Homo sapiens: one gene and its partners. The protein of the gene in region 3 interacts with the protein of the main gene of each other region in a biochemical or structural test. Each region holds a gene or a part of one and is shown on either strand. Other genes may lie near its edges. The genes, in order: CD19, BLK and PLCG2.

Evidence for each region.
Region 1: the proteins of PLCG2 (region 3) and CD19 form a complex in vitro, tested with the Homo sapiens proteins (one study listed by BioGRID).
Region 2: the proteins of PLCG2 (region 3) and BLK form a complex in vitro, tested with the Homo sapiens proteins (one study listed by BioGRID).

Annotation. Positions count from the first base shown.
Region 1 is NC_000016.10:28,930,354-28,934,100, reverse strand, and holds the start of CD19 (B-lymphocyte antigen CD19 isoform 2 precursor), read right to left. Parts: upstream 2,131-3,747; 5' UTR 2,101-2,130; coding exon 2,013-2,100; intron 1,756-2,012; coding exon 1,489-1,755; exon of another isoform or gene 1,191-1,488; coding exon 987-1,190; intron 868-986; coding exon 592-867; intron 1-591. UniProt on the Homo sapiens protein: Functions as a coreceptor for the B-cell antigen receptor complex (BCR) on B-lymphocytes. Decreases the threshold for activation of downstream signaling pathways and for triggering B-cell responses to antigens.
Region 2 is NC_000008.11:11,497,344-11,501,090, forward strand, and holds part of BLK (tyrosine-protein kinase Blk), read left to right. Parts: intron 1-3,747. UniProt on the Homo sapiens protein: Non-receptor tyrosine kinase involved in B-lymphocyte development, differentiation and signaling. B-cell receptor (BCR) signaling requires a tight regulation of several protein tyrosine kinases and phosphatases, and associated coreceptors.
Region 3 is NC_000016.10:81,777,731-81,781,477, reverse strand, and holds the start of PLCG2 (1-phosphatidylinositol 4,5-bisphosphate phosphodiesterase gamma-2), read right to left. Parts: upstream 2,188-3,747; 5' UTR 2,054-2,187; intron 1-2,053. UniProt on the Homo sapiens protein: The production of the second messenger molecules diacylglycerol (DAG) and inositol 1,4,5-trisphosphate (IP3) is mediated by activated phosphatidylinositol-specific phospholipase C enzymes. It is a crucial enzyme in transmembrane signaling.

The DNA of each region.
Region 1 (3,747 bases), about 53 Mb from region 3:
CCCGGCCCTGTGGCTCATGTCTGTAATCCCAGCACTTTGGGAGGCCGAGGCGGGTGGATCACGAGGTCAGGAGTTTGAGACCAGCCTGGCCAACATAATGAAACCCCATCTCTACTAAAAATACAAAAAAAATTAGCCAGGCTTTAATCCCAGCTACTCGGGAGGCTGAGGCAGGAGAATCACTTGAACCTGGAAGGTGGAGGTTGCAGTGAGCTGAGATCGTGCCACTGCACTCCAGCCTGGGTGACAGTGCAAGACTCCGTCTCAAAAAAAAAAAAAAAATTAGCCAGGCGTGGTGGTGGGCACCTGTAATCCCAGCTACTCAGGAGGCTGAGGCAGGGGAATCACTTGAACCTGGGAGGCGGAGGTTGCAGTGAGCCAAGACAAGATGGCACCACTGCACTCCAGCCTAGGCAACAGAGCGAGACTCTGTCAAAAAAAAGAAAGACTTGGAGTCAGTGTTCTGTGTGGAAGTTGGGGTTTGGGGTGAGGCTGGGAGTAGCCCTCGGGTTGGGGGAATCTAAGATTGACTGGCTTCCACTTCTTCCCAGTACCCCCACACAGATGCCTCCCAGTTGAGAGAAACTCTACCTGGCCGAGCAGTGATCTCCAGGTGGAATGACATGGTCAGGTTGCCACGGTGACAATAATACTTTCCAGCGTCTTGAGCTGTGGCCCGGGGCAACAACAGACCCGTCTCCATTACCCACATATCTCTGGCCGGGCGATCGTCCTTCAGCTCTAGGCTCAGCAATGACTTAGGCCCCTTGGGGTGCACATGGGTCCAGGAGAGGGGGCCCCTGGACACAGAGTCAGGGGGTACCCCACAGGACAGCCAGAGTGTGGAGCCAGGGGCCATGGTGAGGTCTGGGACAGGGAGAGATAAGACAAGGAAAGCCTGATCCTCAGGGTTTCACCTCTTCAGTTTCCCCTCCCCTCTGTCTCTGGACCCCCGCTTCCCGGCATCTCCCCAGTCATCACCATACCCTGGCTGAGGCTCTGGTTCAGGCTGTCCCTCGGTGGGAGACACGGAGGCTCTCCCTCCCAGATCTCAGGGCGGTCTTTGGCCCACACATACAGCTTGGGGCTCATGAGCTTCCCGGAAGGGGAGCTGGGGCCCTCTGAGGACCTGTTCTTCAGGCCACAGCCCAGGCCACCTAGGTCCGAAACATTCCACCGGAACAGCTCCCCTGGGAAGAGACCCAGAACCAAATGCAGAGACACCCAGGAGAGGGAGAGAGATAGAGACTCAAAGACAGAGATAAATAGAGACAAAGACCCGCAGAGAGAGAGAAGACAGTGAGAGGTAGAGGGACAGGAAGCAGCTCATACTGAAGCCACGAAGCCCCAGGAGTCTGCCCACCTAGCTCCGAGTTTCGCCCTCAATCCCTCCAGCCCCTCTCTCCAGCTCCATTGTGGCCGCGGACCTCTTCTGTCCATGGTGGCCTCCCTTCTCTCCTCCTGCCCCTGCCCCAGCCCGGCCCTCACCGCTGCCCTCCACATTGACTGTCCAGCCAGGCTGCCAGGCCTTCTCAGAGGGGGGCCCCGGCTGGCACAGGTAGAAGCCCCCCATCTGTTGAGAGACGTTGAAGATGAAAAGCCAGATGGCCAGGGGCCTCATGTGGATTCCCAGGCCTGGCAGCCCCAGGCTGAGTTTTAAGAAGGGTTTAAGCGGGGACTCCCGAGACCAGGTCAGCTGCTGAGTGGGGCCATCTGAGGTCCCCTTGAGGCACTGCAGCACAGCGTTATCTCCCTCTGTGGAGAGAGAGGGAGAGAGGTGTGGGCATGGGTGGGGGGGACCTCCAAGCCCCCCGACTCCTCACACCAGGTTATAGAGCAGAGGACTCCAAAAGCTGGGAGTGGAGGAGCCGGCAGAGTCCTTCCAACCCTTTCCTGAATTTTACAAATAAGAAAATGGAGGCTCAGAGAGGGTAAGTTACTCAGCCAAGGACACCCAGCCACAACTCAAGTTTCCAGCCTCAATCCCTTCCCTTTCTGCCCTTTGGACATACCTTCCACCTTCACCACTAGAGGTTCCTCGGGCCTGACTTCCATGGGGGTGAGGAAGAGGAGGAAGAAGAGGAGGCGAGGAGGTGGCATGGTGGTCAGACTCTCCGGGGCACCCAGCTTCGCGCAGGGGATGCTGGGGCAGGCAGGGGCCTGGAGGGCACTCAACCATGGGTGTCTGCGGGGGCGGCAGGCAGTCCCCCCAGAGAGGAAGGCGGTGGTCACGCCTCAGGCCCCATTCTCCAGGAACCCTCCAGACTCACAACACTTGCCTCCTCCCTGCCACGCTGTTTTATTTTCATCCCAGCTCTCACTACCACGGGAAATGATCTTGTGTGTTTATTTGTTCATTTCTGTTTTCTGCACAAGAATGTGAGCCCCTTGGAGTAGAGACCGTGTTGTTCACCACTAATTGCAAGTGCTCTAGAACAATGCTGGGCACATAGACTCCTTCTCAAAAAAAAAAAAAAAAATTAGCCGGGCATGGTGGCGCACACCTGTAATCCCAGCTACTTAGGAGGCTGAGGCAGGAGAATCACTGGAAACCAGGAGGCGGAGGTTGCAGTGAGCCGAGATCACACCACTGCACTCCAGCCTGGGCACCAGAGTGAGACTCTGTTTCAAAAAAAAAAAAGAAAAGAAAACAGTCCTATACAAATATTGTTTGTGAAGATTAAAAATGACAATATGTTCAGCACTATTAGCCCAGTGTCCAGCACATCATAAGCCCTCAGTTAATGAGATACAGCTTCAATTAATGCCTAAGAGCTCAAGTCATACTGCCTCAGTTTAAAACCAGGCAAAAGCCAGGCACAGTGGTACACGCCTATGGTCCCAGGTCCTTGGGAGGCTGAGGTAGAAGGATCGCTTGAGCCCAGGAGTTCAAGGCTGCAGTGCACCATGATTATGCCTGGGAATAGCCACTGTGCTCCAGTCCGGGCAACACAACAAGACCCTGTCTCTAAAAGAAAAATTGTTTTAAAAGAACCCAGGAGTTCTAACTCCTAAATCTGTTCTTATTCTGCCCCATGCCTCTCCTCTCTGTCTCTCTCTTTCTCTGTCACTCTCTATGTGCCTCTGTGTCTTTTTCACTGCTGCAGGGACTCAGAAAAAGAATTCAGGGACCCAAGAGACCCACTTTCTCAGTGGCTGATTCCCAGGCCCATCTCACCAGGCTGTGACTTCCTGTTTGCTGTGGGCAAGCCCCAGGGGACCCTCCCTACAGGTGGCAGGGCCTCCACTTCCCTTTGGCCAGTTGAGGCGGCTGGGAGGCGGAAGAATGAGGCATGAATGAAGGGGAATGAAGGGGGCGAGTAGCAGGACTCAATCTGCCTTTCATTCAACAAAATCTCTCTAATCCCCTCATTAGCTACCCAGCTGCCCAGACTGGCTTTCACTAGAGCATGTCATTCCCCTGCTTAAAACATGTCAGTTACAGCCAGGCACAGAGGCTCATGCCTGTAATCCCAATACTTTAGGAGGCCGAGGCGAGAGGATCCTTTGAGGACAGGAATTTGAGACCAGCCTGTGCAACACAGCGAGAACCCATCTCTATAGAAATTTTTTAAAAAACAAAAAATGTCAGTTGCTTTTCATCTAGCTAAAATAAAAACTCCAACCCAAGGCCTAGTAGGCCGAGTGTTGCTGACCTACCTACATTTTCCACCTCGTGCCTCCACCACTCTCCTTGCCAAGTGCTTCCCTGCCTCAGGGCCCTTGCACTTGCAGCCCTTTTTCCTG
Region 2 (3,747 bases), on a different chromosome or scaffold from region 3:
TGCTCCTGCTTGCCTGAATCCCTTCCCCACCTTCCCACCTAGGCAACTTGCATTTGCTCTGACGTCCAGGGCAGGTGCGAATGTCTCCTCCCAGTCACAGTGCCCAAGCCCATTTGTGTGTCCCCAGCAACCACCAGCACACACCCAGGGCTCTGGTTTGCAGGCCTGCCAGGTTCTCTGGACCAAAGCTCCTGAGGACAAGGACATGCCCTACATGTGCCTCCAGGTCCCAGCACCCAGCGCAGTGCCTGGCCCACCAGGGGTATCTGGTAAAGTGGTTCTTGAGTTAAAGACACAAGGGCAAAACCTTAAATGAAAATCAAGGTTAAGACATGAGGATGAAAGCTTGAAAGAGGAAAAGCAAAGATAATTGAATGATCATCCCTAATCGTGGTGCACCCCAGTGCCATCAGCATGCTGGGGTTTTGACAGGACCCTTGGAAGAAAGAGAAGAGGCATCTGAGGCCTCTGGCACATTCCACTTCCTGTAAGACAGTGTGGTATAGATGAAAGCATTGGGGCTTCCTGCCAGCCAGGTCAGTCTGGCTCTGCACCTGCCAGCTGGGAGTGTGAAGTGGGAGCAGTTGCACCCACTCTCAAGCACAGACATGAGAACTGAACAGAACCACGGAATGGGGGTCCAGAGCCCAAGACATAGACGAGGCTCCTCCTTGTCCACTGTGGGGCTTGTGCAACCCCTTCATCAAAGCGCTGGTGCTTTCCACATTGTAATCAAGGAAGTTTTCTCACGTTCCTTCTCATCACAACTAGCTGCTGGCCTTTTTGCACACTTTGGCACCTAGGATGCTGAACCTGGACCAGTGGGAGGCAAACAAGACACACCTGGGATGCAAAATGTAAGGAGGCTCCCATGCTCAGGTCGTTCAAGTGCAGGAAAAGTTTGTGTATGTGTGAAACGCACAATGCCATGTGGTGTCTATAAGGGCATTTGAGGTTCTGTGCTTAATAGATGAAGTGGGTTCTGAGCATTGAGTCTGTGGATTCCTGATGAGTTTCCTGGTGCTCTGAGCTCCGTGAACTTGTAAACAAGCTTTTGTGTAGGTGGGTACTTACAGTTTTTGTCAGATTCCCAAAGGGGTCTGTGAACCCCAAAATATTTGGAATCACACAGTCAAATATCTAGGAAGACTACTTTAATTTTCTCTCTCAGCGTGTTGTGGATATGAGGAAGTGGAAAGGACTTGGACATAGAAGTCAGACAAAGCAGCCACATCTGAGTGGTCTCGTCCTGCAGTGTAGTGGTTAGACGGCTGGCCTTGTCAACCAGAGGGCTCCAGTGCAAGGTTCAGCCCTGGCAATGTGAGCAAGTCACTGTGTGCCTTCCTGAGATGATAATAGTTTGACCCCACTGTATACGAGCAGCCTTACCTGTCTCGGGTAGGTTAATTATATCCTCTCAGTCTTATTTCTTCATTCATTGATAATAGCACATCACAGGATTAACAGAATTAAATTACAAAGCCCTAATTTTTAGGTGAGTTGAAGCTGAGGAGCACACAACTTTTCTTACAGGGTGCACTCAATTCTCAATGTCAGAACCACCAGGGGGTCCTTGTACTTCAAAAAGACACATCTTACATGACAACTTCTTTGATTTACTTTTATGCCCAATATTCATTTTGAAACCTCACAAAGGAGAGCATGGTGTTGTTGTTTCTCAAAAGAGAAAGTAAATTTAGTAAGATTGAGAGCCATGAACCTAGACACAGTCACAGGGCACATAAGATTTCGGTCAATCACAGACTACATATATGATGGTGGTCTCATAAGATGAAGACACTGTATTTTGCCTGTACCTGTTCTATGTTTAGAGACACAAATATTCACCACTGTGTTACTACTGCCTGCAGTATTTAGTACAGTCGCAGGCTGTGTAGGTGTGTAGCCTAGAAGCAACCGGCTATGCCACAGAGCCTAGGGGTGGAGTAGGCTCTACCATCTAAGTTTTGTATACGATGTTCGCAGAACAACAAAATCACCTAATGACACATTTTTCAGAACAGATCCCTGTAGTGAAGCAATACGTAACTATATTTTGGGAACTTCCCCTGTATCCAGATAGTCAGTCCAAGAGCTGTGTGTTTGGATCTCACAGTGCTTGAGATCCTGAGAGAATCTCATTTCCTGAGTCAGATGTGGGCATTCTTTCTTGGCATGGGTACACTGCCGTGGCTTGTGCTGAAGGCTGCATAAGAAACAGAGGTTGGAAACTCACAGTGGAATTTATTGCTGAGATGACGTTAAGCTGTTCGCATTCCACCCAGGACCTCCACAGGAGAAGCCCAGAGAGGATGACTCTCAGACTCCAGATCCAGGAAATCCATGCCTCTCTGGAGCAATGGATGTCTTACAGACACTGTGACTCTTCAAACTGATTATTTTCTTCTTTGTGCTTGGACTCCAGGACACTTAGAACCCAATTTGCATCTAACCACTAGCAGTTTGGTGACAGCATGTCACAGTTTGTATTTCTGTGCACCAGCTTTATACACATTTTTTTTTCTGCCCTAACTTACCCTTTGGTCTAATTTCTTTATCTGTTTTTCTATCCTGTTGTATTGTATGTATTTTTATAAGCGGTCTCAAATCTTTTCTGGAAACACTAGGAAATGAATATATAAACAAATACAAGCAGGACAGCATTTCTGAAAGAGCCTGATATACAGTGAGGGTGCTCACTAAGGATTAGTTCCCTATCTGTGTACAAAACAGAAAAATTCACTGAGGGAGCCAACCTGCAGTCAAATGTCCAGCTGTGAGTCTATTACAGTTATAGAAATAGCTTATTTTTACACATATTCCACCTTAGATTGATTTGGGGGGTGTTTGTTTTTGTTGTTGTTGTTTGAGACAAGGTCTCACTCTGTTGCCCAGGCTGGAGTGCAATGGTTTGATCTCAGCTCACTACATCCTCCGCCTCCCGGGTTCAAGCAACTCTCCCACCTCAGCCTCCCGAGTAGCTAGGACTACAGGTGTGCACCACCACGCCCTGCTAATTTTTGTATTTTTTTGATAGAGACAGGGTTTCATCATGTTGGCCAGGCTGGTCTCAAACTCTGGACCTCAAGTGATCTGCCTGCCTTGGCCTCCCAAAGTGTTGGGATTACAAGCATAAACCACTGCACCTGGCCTGTTTTTTTGTTTTGTTTTATTTTGTTTTTGTTTGTTTGAGATAGGGTCTCGCTCTGCCTCCCAGGCTGGAGTGCAGTGGTGTAATCATGGCTCACTGCAGCCTCCACTTCCCCAGCTCAGGCAATCCTCCCACCTCAGCCTCCCAAGTAGTTGGGACCACAGGTGTGCACCACCACGCCTGGCTAATTTTGGTTTTTGTAGAGATGGGTTTTTACCATGTTGTCTAGGCTGGTCTCAACCTCCTGAGCTCAAGCAATCTGCCTGCCTCAGCCTCCCAAAGTGCTGGGATTACAGGCATGAGTGACCATGCCTGGCTCTACCTTTTATGTTAAAGTTTATATAAATTATTTCATTTTAAGATTCTTTTATTCCTGCCATTTCTGTGGTGCAATTGGATTTTTACATAAAGTTAAATAATACTTTTTATTTTGGCCAGGCGTGGTGGCTCACACCTGTAATCCCAGCACTTTGGGAGGCCAAGGTGGGAGGATTGCTTGAGGTCAGGGGTTCGAGACCAGCCTGGCCAACATGGTGAAACCCCATCTCTACCAAAAATACAAAAATTAGCTGGGCATGGTGGCAGGCACCTGTAAT
Region 3 (3,747 bases):
ATATGTACGACAGAAAATCACGGAAGCAATAGTTGCAATAGAAATACAAAAAAAGAAAAAAAAACAGAAAACAACTGCTCATCAATGTGGGGGGCCTCCTGGATAAATAATGGTGCACATGCACTGAAGAACGCTCAGTAGCCATCAGAAAGAATGAGGATGATAGATAAGCAATTTGATCTGGAAAGATTTGTGAGGTCAATAAAAAAATAGCTTCAGACAATAGTTGCAACTGTATGAGTATAATACAATTCCCTTTTTATAAAGGTGATCTTCTGGTAAATCCAGGAGAGTGGTTACTATTTATCGGAGGCTGGGAGAGGGTAGAGGATACAACTTGACTTTATTTATATTAACTGATGATGTAACGGGCAAATTTTTCTCTTTGTGTTCTTGCTGTTTTCTAAATTAAGAAGTGTTTGTGTGTGTTTGTTTGTTTGTTTGTTTGTCTTGAGATGGAGTCTCTCTTGTCACCCAGGCTGGAGTGCAGTGGCATGATCTGGGTTCACTGCAACCTCCACCTCCTGGGTTCAAGTGATTCTCCTGCCTCAGCCTCCTGGGTAGCTGGGATTACAGGCGGCCACCACCACGCCCAGGTAATTTTTGTAGTTTTAGTAGAGATGGGGTTTCACCATGTTGGTGAGGCTGGTCTGGAACGCTTGACCTCAAGTGATCAGCCCAGCTCGGCCTCCCAAAGTGCTGGGATTACAGGTGTGAGCCACCGTGCCTGACCAAGAAATGTTTTCAAAAGTTTTCTCACCAGCAGCTTTTCATTGACTCTACCCAATGAGTGCAAAAGGGCTATTCATGGGGTCTGTGCTTTTCCACTTCCAGAGGAACTGCCCATACTCCAGTCGCTGGTGGGGGAAGGCAGCTGCATCATTAGGTGACTTAAACATCAGTGAGGCTCACAATGACGATTGTCCCTGAGCTGGTATACACGTGACTGCACACACACCTTTGCAAGAGAAACTGCTTGAGGCTGGCATAGACTTCAAAATTCTGTAAAACTTCCCCGCAGAACTGTAGTCAAGGACGAGGGCCCATGCCCCAGAGAATGCCCTTGAACCAGAGAGTCAGGAACTGCCCAAGGACTCTCCATGGATGCGCCCCGATTCTCAGCGAACCTCGTGGAACAGCAATAAGCCCCAATTCTCGACACAGCCCTGGAAAATTGGGTGGCTCCAGTATCCAGAGGGGGAAACAGACTCAAAAAGGTTCTTCAACTTGCCCAGGGTCCCACTGATGGAACTGAAATTCAAATTAAGTTCCGACGGGCAAGGCCACCTGTTTCCCTCGCGCCATGTCACCCCTTTACCACCCCGCCCCCCATAGTTTCTCACCCTAGTTCAAGATTAGGGTACCAAGAGAGCCCCGCCCCACCGTCCTGCTGGAATCCAGGAGCTCCCCGTCCAAACGGGGCACGTCTTTAACCTGAACTCTTGCGCTGTGCGGGTAATGCCCTCTTTGGGATTCCAAAACACAACAAAACACAACACGCACAGACACACGCATAATTACGCAGACAGCTGCGGAGCGGGCATCGCGAGTGTCCTGCAAGCTCTCCAAAAGTCTCCGGGAAGGACTGCGCCTCCCGCGGTATCGCTCCCACCCGCCACCCGCAACCACCGAAGTGAGACAGGGAAGTGTGGCTCCGAGCGTCCGCGAGCTCTGGGCACAAGGGCCGTCAAGAGAGACGGCGCCACCCCACGCAGAGCCGCTCGAAAAGAGGAGTTTTGAACGCCAGCCCCCACACGACCCCTGACCTTCCTCCCGGTCCCCATTCAAAGCTGGGGCCGCCCCACCGCACGGACCGGAGAGGTGGCGCCGGCCCGGGGTGAGGAAGTGGCCAGCGGCTGGGCCAGGATCCCTGCCGTCACCAAACGGACCCCGGGCACGGCGGGCCGGGGTCCCCGAGGGTGCGCCCCGTCCCTGCCCGCTCCGGCTGAGCCAGGACGCAGACCCCCTCGGACGCAGCGCCCTGGGAGCCGGTCCCCGCGGGGCGCAGGTCCCTGGGCGCCCTGCCTGCCTCGCTCCCGGCCGGGCAGCTCACCTGGCCGTGCCGCCCGGGCACAGCTGCCCGCCTGCCCCGGGTTTGGGCTCCGGGGTCCCGCGCGCGCAGCCCGCGTCCCGACTCGGGTCACTCAGCGCCGCTCACGCCCTCCGCCGCCGGCGCTCGCTACTTCTGCTTCGGCCGCGGCGCCGCGCCACGTGATCCTCGGGGGCCGCCCCCCGCACCGCCCAGCCTCGCCCCGCCTCGCCCCGCCCCAGGCGCGCCCAGCCGGGTCCGCCTCTCGGAGCGCACCCCGAGTGCAGCGTCCCCGCGCCCTCCCCGCCATGGAGCGGCCCAGGCCTGGAGCCCCGCCTCTGCGTGCCAAAGAAGAAACTGAGGCAACCCGAGGGGAGGCTACCTGCCCGAGGCCACTTGGCCAGGTGCAAAGGGAATTCCCCAATATCATGGCATTCCTGGAGAGCCGGCCGCAGTCCAGGTGTTTGCCGTATACTTAACACACTCCCGGCCGGGCGCCCGGGCTCACGCCTGTCATCCCAGCTCTTTGGGAAGCCTAGACGGGAGGATCGTCTGAGCTCGAGAGTTCGAGACAGCAATGAGCTAGGATGGGTGTGGCCGAGAGACACTCCGTCTCAAAAATAAATAAATAAAAATTAAAAATAAATATACTCTTCACAATTACCCGCCAGGAATTGCCAATTCATGGCCCTAATTTGAAGCCCTCGTTGAGGCTGCGCTGGAGTCAGACCAACCCTTACTGCTACCTTAGGCAGACCACTTAAAAACCGACAGCCTCAGTTTCCCCATCTGTAAAACGTGATCAACATAGTGCCAGCCCCAAAGGGAGTCAGGAGCAAAGAACCCCAGACAATTGATGTCCCGTTTTCCTGATCTCATGGGAAGAAGCTAATATGTTCTTTAAGAAATTTATTTTTCCGTTCGTGTGTTGCATGAAGCTATCTGATTCAAACCCTTCCTATGCTCTTTGATGGAGGTATCTTTGTTGTGACTAGAGGCAGTTTCAGGGGCACCTAGACAGCTGTCAGGCACTTGAATTTCACTTCCAAGTTGCTTGAGTTATAGCTTCTGTTTTCTAAGAGGCAGGGTCTCACTCTGTCACCCAGGCTGGAGTGCAGTGGTGCCATCATAGCTCACCACATCCTCGAACTCCGGGACTCAAGCGATCCTCCTGCTTCTGCCTCCTGAAGAGCTGGGACTATAGAGGCACACCACACTTGGCTAATTTTCTCTTTTTTCGACATGAGGTCTCACTATGTGTCCCAGGCTGTTCTTGAACTCCTGACCTCAAGCAATCCTCCTGCCTCTACCTCCCAAAGCACTGGGATCACAGGCATGTGCCACTGGTCTGTTATAGCGTTTTTTTTGTGTGTGTGTGTTTTTGGTTTTTTTTGTTTTTTTTTTTGTTTTTTTTTTGTTTTTTTTTTTTTTTGAGACAAAGTCTTGCTCTCTTGCCCAGGCTGGAGTGCAGTGGCACGATCTCGGCTCACTGCAACCTCCACCTCCCAGGTTTAAGCGATTCTCCTGCCTCAGCCTCCTGAGTAGCTGGGATTATAGGTGTATGCCATCATGCTTGGCTAATTTTTTGTATTTTTACTAGAGACGCGGTTTCACTATGTTGGCCAGATTGGTCTCAAACTCCTGACCTCAAGTGATCCACCCACCTTGGCCTCCCAAAGTGCTGGGATTACAGGCATGAGCCACTGCACCCGGCCTGT